Linked DNA regions of Homo sapiens: region 2 is linked to region 1. Evidence: fine-mapped expression QTL. Tissue or cell type: whole blood. Region 1 holds a variant in brackets; the other region holds the start of a gene. All regions are shown on one strand. Distances are between the middles of the regions.

Region 1 (7,710 bases):
AGATCATTGAGTCCTTTTAGCCAGATTACGTTCTCATTTTCCCCCTTTATGCGTAATAGTCTGTATTATCAGCTATCCTGCCGAAAAGCTGAACTGTTTCCTTTTTTGGATATGGAACTTCCATTAGCCAGCTAGAGCCGTTTCTGCCTCACAGTGTACCCATAAGAAGCATAGATGCTATTCTCGTAGCACTTGGCACTGCATATTTGAATTTTAGAAAAGCTTTCTTCCCGTTTCTCTAACTTCTCTGGAGAATAACACATTGATGTTGTGTTTTCTTGGCTTATAAAAAATACAGCTTGAAAAAAAAGGAATGAAAAAAGAATGTTTGTATCAGGCAGAACTACAAGTGACAATGGTTAAAGTTATAGAAAAGTTAATACTCGAAATAGTCCTGTGCTTGCTGGCCTGCGCAGCTCTTACAGACCGTGCGGAATACATGCCTCCTGTGGCCACGTCTGTTCATGGTGTCTGTTTTTGGAGTGTTTAAGAGAAGGAGATCTTAAGATCTTATGATTTATTTCGTATTATGGAAATACTGAGCCCCTATACAAGCATAGTTCACAAATAGCAAATGAAGCAAGGTTATAAAAGTGCAAACTTGTTAATTTGGCAAGAATATGGTATGGTGTTCTTAAAAAAATAGTCAAGAATGTTTTCAAGTACGTCTGAATTATTTCTATTTATGAATAGAGAAATTAAGACTTGGAAAGACTAAATGACTTATCACTATGCAGCTAAGGCATTCTTGAATAGAGAGAAGACTGAGAAATAGCCCAGGTGCTGTTCACCTAGTGTCTTACTCCTTTGAGGAATCCTGTGAAGTAGGGATTATCAGCTTTGTTTTACAAATAGAAACCAGGATTTAAAATTGGTGAAGTAATTTACACAAGGTAACACACCTGGTAAATAACAGACGTATGCATCAAGCCCAAGTCTGATGGACTCCTGCTGTCCATTGTTATACTAGGCTGCCTCACATAGACCAAGTTTTCAATCCTGCTCCGCCTCTAATTTACTAGATTAGCTGGTGCAAGCCATTTATCCTTTCTGGTCCTCCAAAAAGCCATTTGTAAAGATGAAGTAACAGTATCTGCTTATGTCATAGGATCCTCCTGAGGTTGTTGTAAAAGGTTTTTGATGCAAATCAATTGCAGTGTACATATAAGTTATTAAATATTATATGAATTGTTACATAGGCTGTCTTTAAATTCACCAAATAAATGTCTCTAACTAGTTTCTACAGTCCCGTGAAAAACTGTACCATATTCTTGTCACATTTACAGTGAAAAAGTGAGTTATTTAGGTAATCTGAAAAGTTCACCTAGGCCCTGCTCACCATATCTAGGAAAGAAAATACGTCCTGGCACATTTTTCAGTTATTTTGGCTTCCACTGTAGTAATCATGGCTTGGAATAATTATGGTAGAATTTTCATATATCATTCACCAATTTAGGGTCTTCATGAACTTTGCTTATTACTATTATTTGTGGACTTACCCAAAGTGAACTGATCAAGGTAGTGTTCTGAGATTGGGGTTGGAAACCTCCCCAGGATAGTGGGAGAGTCCTGGGAGGAACTTCTGAAACTAGCCCTAATAAGGTCTTCTCTGGAATGGGATACTTTCATCAGGAGCAACCTCCTCCCTTCTGAAAGCTCACCTTTTTCTGCCTAATTACAAGTGCCTCATTCCTAAAGGATCCATGGGTGGTTCCACCCGCAGTTCTTCTACATGAATGTTGAAAGAGTTGTTTCTGACCAGACTTAGTTTACGTCTGGGAGACTGGGGTTGTTTGCAGGTTGGTTCTAAGAGCTTCTTTCACCTCCTCAAAGCGACACAGCTTCCTCCCAGCATCGCATGCCAAACAACTTTTGGTTTGGGTGATGAATAAAGAAAATGAAGAGTTGTAAAAATGTAATCTTTTTTAGTTCGTAAACTCTAAAAAGTGACTGCATTTAAAAAATATTACATAGGCCCTCGAACCATTTAAAAATGGAGAAAAGATTTTAGACAGCATTTTTGTCCTAGGCTTTGAACATTATATATAGACAGATAATTATTTATTATTTATTTATTTATTTTGAGATAGGGTCTCAAAATAAATCCAGGGTGGAGTGCAGTGGCACGATCTTGGCTCACTGCAACCTCTGCCTTCCAGGCTCCAGCGATCGTCCCACCTCAGCCTCTGAATAGCTGGGAATACAGGTGCACACCACCATGCCTGGCTAATTTTTTTGTACTTTTTGTAGAGATGCGGTTTTACCATGTTGCCCAAGCTGGTCTTGAACTCCTGGGCTTGAGCAGTCTGCCCGCCTTGGCCTCCCAAATTTCTGGGATTACAGGCATGAGCCACCACGCCTGACTAAACCACCAAATTTCAATTATTTGAACCTATTTTTTCCTCTGGAGTTGGTTAGGGCTTTCTACATTAGAAAACAGAATTTTAAAAAAAATTATGAAGTATTTCAAATTTATAGAAAATTACAGAAACTAATAGACAATTATGTATATACCATTCAGCTTTAACAAATGTTAATATTTTGATAGGCTAACTTTTAAGTATAATAAAGCTGAATGTGAGCTCAGTAGCGAACCTGTAAGCTTGGTATTATCAAGAGGATATTGGCCAAACAGCATACTTGCTGGCCTTTCAGCCACCTAAAATCACATAATAAAAGTTGGCTGAATTCCCAGATGGGTAACTTAAAAAAAAAAAAAGTTTATGAAATAGAACCTAATTCAGGAAAGTAAAATACTTGAAATCTTTAAACTGTGAAACTCACTTTATTTTGACTAGTTATTCTCCATATGAACTTGCTTATTAACTAGAGCCAGTTTCCAAGTGTGGGAGATCTGGGAAGCCGGCTGTGACAGAAAGAGATTGTAGAAGGGCACAGCCCTAGTGATACATGGAGTGTGGGTGGGATCCTGCAGACCAACAGCATTTGCTCTAAGCTACTGGGTGTTCCCAAACCAGCTGGCACAAAGTCATCTTGTGGGTGTGTGGTTTTTGTAATATCCTTTTTTAAGTTACAAAATAAAGAGATGTTTATTGTAAAAAGTCAGAATGAGCATAAAGAAGAAAAAAAAATCACCTGCAACCCCATTGTTAACATTTTGTTCTATGTATACCTCCTTTCCATTTTTTAAGCATATACATATTTTTTGTTGTTATAAAAATGGATGATGGTATTTTGTAACCTGCTTTTATAACCAGATACATTGAGAACATTTTTCTTTTTTTTTTTTTTTTTTTTTTGAGACGGAGTCTCACTCTGTCACCTAGGCTGGAGTGCAGTGGCACGATC[T/G]TGGCTCACTGCAACCTCTGCCTCCCAGGTTTAAGCAAGTCTCGTGCCTCAGCCTCCTGAGTAGCTGGGATTACAGGCATGCACCACCATGCCCAGCTAATTTTTGTATTTTTAGTAGAGATGGGGTTGTGCCATGTTGGCCAGGCTTGTCTCAAACTCCTGACCTCAAGTGATCCACCCACCTCAGCCTCCCAAAGTGCTGGGATTACAGACAGGAGCCACCACTCCTGGCCAAGAACATGTTTCCATGCTATACATATTTTACCACATTTCTTCTTTCTCTCTTTCTCTCTCTCTCCCTCTCTTTCCCTTCCCTTTTGTTCGTTCGTTCGTTCGTTCCTTCCTTCCTCCCTCCCTCCCTCCCTCCCTCCCTCTCTCTTCTCTTGTCTTGTCTTGTCTTTTCTTTTCTTATCTTTTCTTTTCTTTTGTTTTCTTTCTTCTGGCTGTGTCACCGAGGCTGGAGTGCAGTGGCATAACCATAGCTTACTGTAACCCCGAATTCCTAGGTTCAAGGGATCCTCCTGCCTTAGCCTTCTGAATACCTGGGAATACAAGCATGCACTACCATGCCTGGCTAATTAAAAAAAATTTTTTTTCTATAGACAGGGTCTCACAATGTTGTTCAGGCTTACATTTCTTATTTCTAATGGTGGTAATGGCTGTATGTATTTCACTACACAATTATACCATTTTTTATTTAATGCAACAGCTATTATTGGGCTTTTAGTGTTCTTTTGTTTTTGTTTTGTTTATATTACAAACAATACTATGGTGAACATCCTTACAGCTAATCTTTGCAACATCTATAACTTTTAGGACAAATTTTTAGAAGTAGGATTTCAGAGTCCAGGAGTTTATGTAGGATGACTGTTATCAAATTGCCCTTCAGAAAGTTGGACTAAGGTCCTTCCAAGTTGTTGGTCTTTTTTTTTTAATAACAGAATTGCTGTAGAAATTTATATAAAAGTTCAAGATGATTATATTTGTGTTCAAGGTGGTATCATTTATTTCTTCTAGGGTCACAAGATGCTGCTCATGATTTGGATACACTGAAAAAGAATAAGGTAAAAAAATGCTTTAAGTCTGGCACCATATACACAGAATATTTTAATTGTTTTATTTAGGAAAAACTGTATTGGTCCATCTTTGGTATATTATGGAGTTTATTTGGTAACATTTTGGCTATCATTTCAATAGAGTTGAAAAATAATTGGCACATAATTCAAATATGTGGATCTGTAATCTGTCTTTCCAGTTTTACATTCTTCTTGATCTCCTTCATGTACCCTCATGAACCTGACCTTGGAGGCATGTCTTTCTTGCCTGTGTTTATGTAGTTCCTCTGTGTGGGATAGACTTTCCCTCATCTCTGCTTGTCCAAGACCTGTCCATACCTTAAGTCCCAACTCACATACCACGTCTTCTGTAATGCCATTTCCAGCCACTCTACTCCATACAACTGATGTGATTTATTACATATTTACTCAAAAGGATTTTTAGCCCTCTACCATTTTTTTGAGTACTGTTTCAGGTCATGGAATTGCTGTAGGTGAAGGAGTGCAAGAGATTCTTGTTCACTTGAAGCGTATGACCTAAGGGGCAGACAGAGAAGAGAGACAAGCAGCTACCGAACAGCGTTTGTGTGCTTTGATGGGGAAGTGCAGGGTGCTGTAGAAGTGCATAGGAGATGATGCTCTTAACCCATGTTTGGTTTGGTTTGTTTTTGGGGGGATAAGTGAGTCAGGGGAGACTTCCTGGAGGAAGTGATATTGAAGTATTTCTCTGAAGAGGCTAGGAAAGGAGTAGACAGCCTGTAATCCCAAGGCTTTGGGAGGCCAAGGCAGGAGGATTGGTTGACCCCAGGAGTTCGAGGTTACAGTGTGCTATGATTTTGCTACTGTACTCCAGACTGGGCGACAAAGCAAGACTCTATCTCAAAAAAAAAAAAGAAAGTAAAGTGTTCATACAGAATAAATGATATGTGTGAAGGCCCAGAAGCAAGAGAAAGGTGGATGCTTTCAGGGACAGAAAAGTTCAGTGACCCTGGAATAGAGAGTGTGAGAAAGAAGGGCACCAAGAGACAAGGCCAGAGAGAGAGGTAAGCATGAGCCAGATCACAAAAGGCCATGTAAGCCAAAGTTAGTTGTGTGGACTTGATCCAAAAGACTATGGAAAGCCACTGAGAAGTTACCCAGAGATGTAACAAGGTCAAATTTGCAGTTCAGAAAGATTTCTCATTAGAAGCAGTGTGGAAAATCGATTGGAGGGTTGCTCAAGTTAGAGATGGGGGAAACTGGTTATAAAGCTATTGCAGTAATCTAAGGAAAAGATGATAATGGCTGAGATTAAGATTTAGTGGAGATAGAATTAGATAGATGTGAGGGGTTTTTTAGAGGGTAGAATTCTTAAAATTTGATTACTTATGAGGCAGGATAGGGAGTGGGGCTAAGGGAGAAGGAGGAGTCAAGGCTGATGTCTAGCTTTCTTTGGTAACTAAGTAAAGTTATCGTTCCATGAGATTGAAAGCAACGTAGAAGGAACAGGCTTTGAAGGAGAAACAGTGTGCTCAGTTCTGAACATGTTAGGTTTTGGGTGATGTGGATCATCTAGGTGGGTGGATATGTAGGGTCTGAAGTTCAGAATAGAGGTGAATATATAGATTTAGGAATCTTCAGCTTTTAAGTAGTTACTGAAACCATTAGAATAGATGAAGCTGCCTGGGGAAAAGTGTAAAGTAAGAGAGAAGAGGGCCTATGACAGAATCTTATCACAGAACTGATAAATTGAGGAATATCACCCTATATGGAATGATCAAACAAAGAAGAGTCCGCAGTGGGAAAGGAGGATCTAAAAGAGGCCCAAAGAAGGTAAAACAAAAAGATGGTGTCATGGAAACTAAAGAGAATAGTGTTTTAAGGAGGAGAGAGTCAGCAATGTCAGATGCTGTAAAAGTTTAAGTACGATTAGGACTAAATTATATCCATGGGACTTGGTGACAGAGAGGTTGTTAGTGCGTTTGGTGGAAACAGTTTCATTTGAATTGGAGGCCAAAGCCATATTGCAAAAGATTGAGAAGTGAGGAAGTGATGGCAAAGGGAAAAAAAAAAAGAGAGAGAGGAGCCATAGGTGAGGAGGGGGAGGGGAGAGCTTTGAGCATGTTTTAAGGCTGATGGTAGAAGAAGGAATTGAAGATACAGAAAAGCAAGAATTATGACTATAGGGAGATGCCAAGAAAGTAGGAAGCACTGTGACTCCAAGCACAGGTTCTGGAATGAGCCTTATCGAAGATGCACGAGCACATCCTTCATTGTAATCAGAAGGCAGAGGGGAAGTACAGATGTGGACAAGGTTGTTAGGTTTTTTTTTTTTTTTTTTTTTTTTTTTTTTTTTTTTGAGGCAGAGTCTCGCTCATTTGCTCAGGCTGGAGTGCAGTGGCATGATCGTGGCTCACTGCAACCTTTACCTCCTGGGTTCAAGTGATTCTCAGCCTTTGGATTATCTTAATGGACTGTCTGCCTGGCTTTCTTCCACATGGTTGGTGGACTCTAGGAAAAGGGGCTCAAATACATAGATGCAAGAGGAGGAGGTTGCTCAAGTGTACCATCTGAAAGAAAATATTTTACAACCACACCTCCCCTTACTTTTCAGCCAGATTGGTTCATCAGAATCTCTGGGTATGAGACCCTGTGTTATTGATAGTTTTTAAGAGTTCATCAGGTGACTCTAATGTGCAGTCATCCTGGAGAACCATTTTATAAAGTAAAGAATATGAAGGAAAATAGGGAAATAATTCTTGAAAGGGAAGTTGTATACCACTGATACACTTCTCCTATTTAAGTTTTTATATGGATATTCACAGATTAATTCAACAAAGATTTTAAGCATTTTCTGCTAAACTCACTGCTCATTCGCTTATAACACTAAGTTAAACATGGTCCCTACCCTCATGGAGTTTCTAGTGCAGTGAAAGAGAAAAACAATCTCTAAATGGCATGAGCTATAATAGGGCAAGTCCAGGGCTATGAAAATATATAGGCCAGGTGTGGTGGCTTATACCTGTAATGCCAGCACTGTGGGAGGCGGAAGTGGGAGCATCACTTGAGGCCAGGAGTTCGAGACCAGCCTGGGCAAAAAAAGTGAGACCCGCCCCCCTCTTCTCTGAAAAAAAAAAAAAAAAAAAAAATTAGCTGGGTGTGGTGGTACACGCCTGTAGTCCCAGCTACTTGGGAGGCTGAGGCAGGAGGATCACCTGAGCCTAGGAGTTCAAGATTGCAGTGGCCTATGATTGCATCATTGCACTCCAGCCTGGGTGACAGAAAGAGACCCTGTCTCTGCATGATGATAATAATAAGTTAAAAGAGAGAGAGAGAGAGAGAAAACATATAGTAGAAGGAGCACTTC
Region 2 (6,217 bases), 45 kb before region 1:
CCAACTTCCCTAATAAGCGCCAAAGCATATTACTGACAATAATAAGTTATTTTACTTAACTATTTTTCATTGTATATGTTCACTAAAATATCATTTCCACTGTATACTTCCAATTGAAACAGAGTAATTAGATCTGGTAGACAATCTAATGCACATGCATTAATGAAAATGTGATAATTGATTGGCAAACATGTATTATGAGGTGGAAGGTTTTTTTTTTAAGACTAGAAGAGGTTGAGATTGAAAAGAGTATGTGGTTTATAATGCAGTAAGAATGCAGACAGCATGAACCTAATAAACACATGGTGAACAGATCTTACTCACTTCTTTGGCAAGATATTTGAACAAATGTTTCAATTCCTAGCCAGCTGGGAAGATATGCCAGACTCACAGACAATTCTATAGGCTGAAAGATCCAAAATCTTATCTGATTCATTTACATGCAAAATTACACAAAGGGAGCAAACCCAAGGGTATTATTATTAAAACTAGAGCACACAGGTTTTGAGAGAGAGGAGGGAAGTAATTCATTCATTTCAACCTGGCCTAACTGAAGGCCTCGAGTATCAGATAAGGCCCTAAATACTCTAGTATTTCAAAAATTACACTGTCCCTGCCCAGAGAAAATTCACACTCAAGCAAGGTAAGCAATGTATTTCTTAAGAAACTAAAAATATAAGGCAAGTGCTAAAATATGACGTTTCAATAAATCAAAATATTTGACATGGATATAATAATGATCACATTCAATGCATTTTAACTTTCACAAGTTCAATAATACAAGAGGCTGAAGCTTCCCAAAACAGGAAGTGAAAAAAACAGTGCTTTTGAGAAAAGGCAATGAACTGGAATTATTAGAGTTCAAATGCCCAGAATTTCATTTAATCTTATTTATGAAGGTGGGATATTAAAGTTTGATTGCATTTATCCTACAAAAATGTTTAATAAATGCTTAGAAAAGGTATTTTGCCCAAATACCCAAATCACTTTTGATGTTACTCTCACTTCCTCTTTTAGAAACCATCATAACCATTTCCTTTAAACCACAATACCACAGGTCTAGTAACTTTTATAATATTTGACTTGTTCATTTTTGGACAAAATTCATATAGGAATCAATTTCCAAGTTTTTTAAGCAGCACAATCTCCCCGAACAGTTCAGGTCAATGCAACCTCTAAGTAATACTATTTAAAACTGAATTATTCCTAACCTATATAAATTTATAACCTAGGCTCCTTGGTAAATGCAGAGGGGCTTCTTTGTCATGACACTGAGCTCCTGCCACATAAAAGGTAACAAACTGAGTAAGCATGTTGCAGTTACTCTCCAGATAGCACTGGGTTTAGAGTAATAAAGCCTTGCAATTAGGTGAGCAACCAGACTTTGTCCTTATCCAAAATTTATCATCATTAAACCAGGACACTCTTTAGAATTAGTGTCTACATCAAATTGTAAAAAATAAATCAATTTTACACTCAAACGCTTGGAAATGAATTTCCAAAGAAAAAAAAAAAAACCTTTCTTCAGAAGCCCTCTCAACCTACAATCTATTGCTATGATTAAACTAAACGGTAACATTCACGATATATTAAAAAGCCAACAAATAGTTATGAAGGTATGACATCAAAGACACATTGGAAACTCGATGGATCTAAATTTTCCAAATATCTCTTTTTCTCTTTATCAAATTGTTTAAAACTTACCAACCTTGCCTTAAGGGGAGAGATTTTGTTGTTTTGTCCTACGATAATGAATGTAATTATTTGTTCTATCTTTACATGGACTTTTCTAAACTTCCAGTGGTCTTCCACTCCTTACTGTACTGAGGACATGTAAAAGCCTTTAAATGGGCCTATTAGCTATAGTTGCTCAAATTATCAGACTATGCTATAAATCAGCAGCAATTGCAACATTTTTACGGTTTTTATTTTGTACAGACACCGAACTTTAAGAAATGGTATTGGAAAATCTAACATGAGGAGGAGTACAGGGGAAAGAGTAGAAGGTTGTTATTCCAGTTCTAGTGACTCACAGCCTAGAAGTATTTCAGAAAATTGGTTCCACCCTCACTTCCCCCTCCTCTCCACCTTCAAAATGAAATAATCCCAAATCGTCAACACACTCTCAATGGCTTTTTATTTAGCAATCTAAAATAAAGTGGCAAAGTGGAGGGGATACGGGATTCATCCAATCAGCCCTTCTCTACCCACATTCCCACACCAAAAAATGGGGATGTGGGGTGTAATCCCTGTTCACTGCTGCCATCTCCGTAAGAATATGGAACACTCAAGTTTTCCTACCCACCTAGAATTTCGCCCACCCACCACCCTCCCTTTCCTATGGGCCCCATCATGGGGGCGGGGGCGCCGAGGAGGGGACAGCTCCCGGCTCCCAGCGGCGCCCCCACCCCGTGCGAGGCCCAGCGCCCGATCCCGCCGCCGGGAGCCGGGAAATGGCTTCTCTGCCTTCGGCCGGCCGGCGAACCACAGGGAGAGGCGCCCGGGACTCCGCATTAGGCCGCGGCGCATCCAGGCGACCCCGGGCCGGGCCTCGGGCGGCGACGCCGAGATTTCTACACCCGGCGCCTCCTGCCGCCCCCACCCCACGGCCTCCCTTGCCCTTCATCCCTCCCGGGCCCGCCCGCCTCCGCCGCGGCCTCCCCGGCCCGTGCGCACCTTCTTGATGTTGTAGAGGCGGGTGAGCATGCCGACGCCCCGGTCGTTGAGGATGGTGAGCTTCTCCGCCAGCTTCTGCTGACTGGGCTGCAGCACTGAGCGCGACATGGTGGTGCTGGTGCCGCCGCCGCCGCCGGCCGCCTCGCGCCCAGTCACGGGCCCGCGGCCTTCGCAGCAGCCTCTCTCGGGCCTCCTCCCCTCCCGCCCGCGACCTCCGCCTTAGGAGAGCGCGCCCATGGCCCTCGCGCCCCAATCCCGCGCCGGCGACAGAGCGAGCCGCGGCGGACTCCTCGGAGCCCCTTCTCCCGCAGCAGCCCGCGCCCCGGCAGCCTCCTGCCTTCCGCCCGCCGCCCTTCCGCCCCCACCCCCGGCGCTCTCCGCCCCAGCCCCCAACGAGCCGCCTTCCCCGGCTGCTCCACTAGGTGTGGCGGCGGCGGCGGCGGCGGCGGCGTCTCCGGCGGCTGAGAACGAGGCCGCTTCCCGCAGCCCCGGACGGGCCCTCGGTCACCTGATCGGCAGCGCCGGCGCCCCCGCGAGGCCGGACGGGGAACTGCGGCCGACGGGCCCTCGGCATGGCCTCGCCGCCGCCGCTCTGGCCCTGGCCCTGGCCCGGACCGCCCACTACGCCTGATGCCGGGATGGGAGTCCCAAGCGGGGACTGAGTGGGGTCGCGTTGTGTGCTCTTTCCACTTCGCCCCACACCCCACTCCTTCAAGTTCCCAAAAGTTGCTTTTCCGCACCACCCTTCTAAAGAAACCGGCAGAAACTCTGCTGGGAGGCGGGGTGTTTTCCAGGCGAGTTTCGCTTAAGAGTGGGCTGGTGGCTCCAAGCGCTTTTTCCTCCCACTGCTTGACAGGCGCTCGCCGCAGAACACAGCAGATGTTGTGCTCCGCGAGGTGGGGATCGCCTCTGCCAGCCTCCCCAGCCCATCCTCAGTCTCCCCGCCTGGAACCAGTTTGTGAGAGAGGAGGTCGGAAGTGAGGGTAACTCAAGTCCTTGAGATAATCACAATCTAGACTTTGTCGGCGAGGAGCACCCATCCGGAGGAGACGCAGTAGGTCCTGGCATGTGGAAGGCAAAAAATAAATGTTTGTTCAATGCCTAAAGGAACCGCTCCCATTTTTTTACAGCCTCCACCCTAAATCCCACTTCTTCTTGGAAACATTCTTCTTTGCCATCTCATTTTTCCTGATCAATTTCTTCTTAGCGACACTCCAAGGCTACTCCCTTGTCAAATGTATTAGACATGATTCCAAAAGTGAACTAACTGAGGACTTACGTAATTGAGGTGAGAAACTTCAGCCAAGAGGACTCAGGCCTCTAATATTTTTGGCTTTGCCTTTTCTCGATATGTTAATTTTTTATATTATATTCATTAATTTTAAGTCAGTAACAAAATGTCCCGCCACATTCAATAAGACATTCTAAGAGTAATAAGCCATCACTGGATTTATCAAAACTCTTTAAGAAAAGGAAATTGTAATGAATAGCTTTAAAATATTTTTTAAAGCTACTATATCTACTATTCGTAAAGAAATCTTCATTTTAATATTCCAACAAGAAAGAAGGAGTGGACTGAATGGATTTAATCTAAGGGGCATTTAAAAGAGTCCTGTTCCCACCAAAAGAAGTCATAATCATACCTGCCAGTGTGCCTGAAATTCTATATACAAAGCTGCAGTACCTTGAATGAATGCTTTGTACCTAGAGAGTCTTAAGAATACAAACACTTCAGAGAGATCATCTGTCGAGCTATTACTAGTCATTAACTGGTCAAGGAATTTAATTTATCTGGTTACTTCTCAGCCTGATAGTTAACATTTTAATTTAGAGGAGGCAAGGTTGTGGGGCCTGGAATAGTAAGGGCAGACCTGAGAAGGGGAGGCTGCGAGGAGGGGTTTGGGGTAGCCAGATAAGAAAATTTAAAAATGTTGAACATTGGGGAAATATGTGCTCCTTTAGGGAGACTACAAATAACTAAGTCTAGACGCAGAATTACAGAGTGCTACCAATAAAAGATTGTCTCATTTTCTAGTTTTTAAAAACTGCTGTATAGGGAGAACAAGAAAATGGCACTGTATTATAAATTTGAACACAACTCTTACTCCCCAAGAAAAACTATCATGTTGCCATATAAACTTGAATACTAGTAGCTGCTTATAACTCAGGAAGTACCCAATAGGAGAACGCTGTAGATAGTAGTCTCATTATTCAATATTTATTGTCACTAATTCATAGACATACTGGCCCTAGACTGTAATGAAATGTATATATTTGCGTAAAAGAGATTAGATGTAGATGAATTACAATTTTTGTCTTTCTCTACATTTTGCATTAAAAAGAACAAGTGTACGGGAATTTTTCTTAAACTTTTTAACTTTTTTGTAGAGACAGGGTCTCCCTATGTTGTCCAGGCTGGTCTTCAACTGCTAGGCTCAAGCTCCATCACACCTGTAACCCCCACACTTTGGGAGGCCAAGGCAAGAGGATTGTTTGAGTCCTGAAGTTCAAGACAAGCCTTGGCAACATAGGGAGACCCCCATATCTACAAAAATTTAAAAATTAGCTGGGGGTGGTGGCGTGCCTGTGGTCCCAACTACTCTGGAGGTTGAGGTGGGAGGATCACTTGAGCCCGGAAGGCAGAGGCTGCAGTGAGCTGTGATCACACCCCTGTACTCCAGTCTGAGTGACAGAGCAAGACCCTGTCTTAAAAAGAAAGAAAGAAAGAGAGAGAGAGGAAGGAAGGAAGGAAGGAAGCAAGCAAGCAAAGGAGGGAGGGAGGGAAGGAGGAGGAGAGGGAGGAGGGGAAGGGAGGGGAGAAAGGAAAGAAAGAAGGAAGGGAGGGAGAGAGGAAGGAAAGGAAGGAAGGAGAGATGAAAGAAAGAAAGAGAGAAATTGAGGCCAGGCACGCTGGCTCACTCCTGTAATCCCAGCACTTTGGGAAGCCAAGGTGGATGGCTCACTTGAGGTCAGGAGTTTGAGACCAGCCTGGTCAACATGGTGAAACCCATCTCTACTAAAAATACAGAAATTAGCCGGGCATGGTGATGCGTGCCTGTAATCCCAGCTACTTGGGAGGCTGAAGCAGGACAATCACTTGAACCCGGGAGGAGGAGGTTGCAGTGAGCCCCGTGATTGCACCACTGCACTCCAGCCTGGGTGACAGAGTGAGACTCTGTCTCAAAAAAAAAAAAAAAAAAAAAAAAGGAAAAGTACATCCATCATCCAGCCTCCCTTGCAGCTTATGTTCTGACCAGTAAGATATAAGCTGTCAAGAACCTTCCTAAAGGGACTGCTGCTGCTCTCCATTTGCCAGTTCTTCCTCACTTCCTTCATTCTGCCACACCCAACAAGGATGCAATGACCACTATCTTGAACCAGGAAGACAACAGCCACTCAGTAAGGATGACAAAACATAAAAATGGAAGGTGTATGTGGGCTTTTTAGAACACAACAGCCATGTCAAACTTGGCCTGTCTAGACCTGGTTTTGTACGAAAGAGAAATAAACTTCTAGCTTTTTTATTTGTTTTTTTTTTTAT

The links. PIP is the estimated chance that this variant, and not a neighbour inherited with it, causes the effect.
Region 2: NCKAP1 starts here. The variant in region 1 is fine-mapped to the expression of NCKAP1 in whole blood (TOPMed, PIP above 0.99).

What each region holds. Positions count from the first base shown.
Region 1 is chr2:183,079,182-183,086,891 of GRCh38, forward strand. It overlaps DUSP19 (dual specificity phosphatase 19), which reads left to right. Exons shown (of 4, transcript NM_080876.4): 2 at 4,327-4,373. Among named protein-coding and RNA genes, the nearest start is that of DUSP19, 4.3 kb to the left of the region's middle. The variant T/G (reference allele first, on the strand shown) is at 3,310.
Region 2 is chr2:183,035,316-183,041,532 of GRCh38, forward strand. It overlaps NCKAP1 (NCK associated protein 1), which reads right to left and starts at 3,142. Exons shown (of 31, transcript NM_013436.5): 1 at 2,677-3,142. The coding sequence starts at 2,784. RefSeq lists silencers at 2,562-2,681, 2,742-3,331, 3,064-3,715.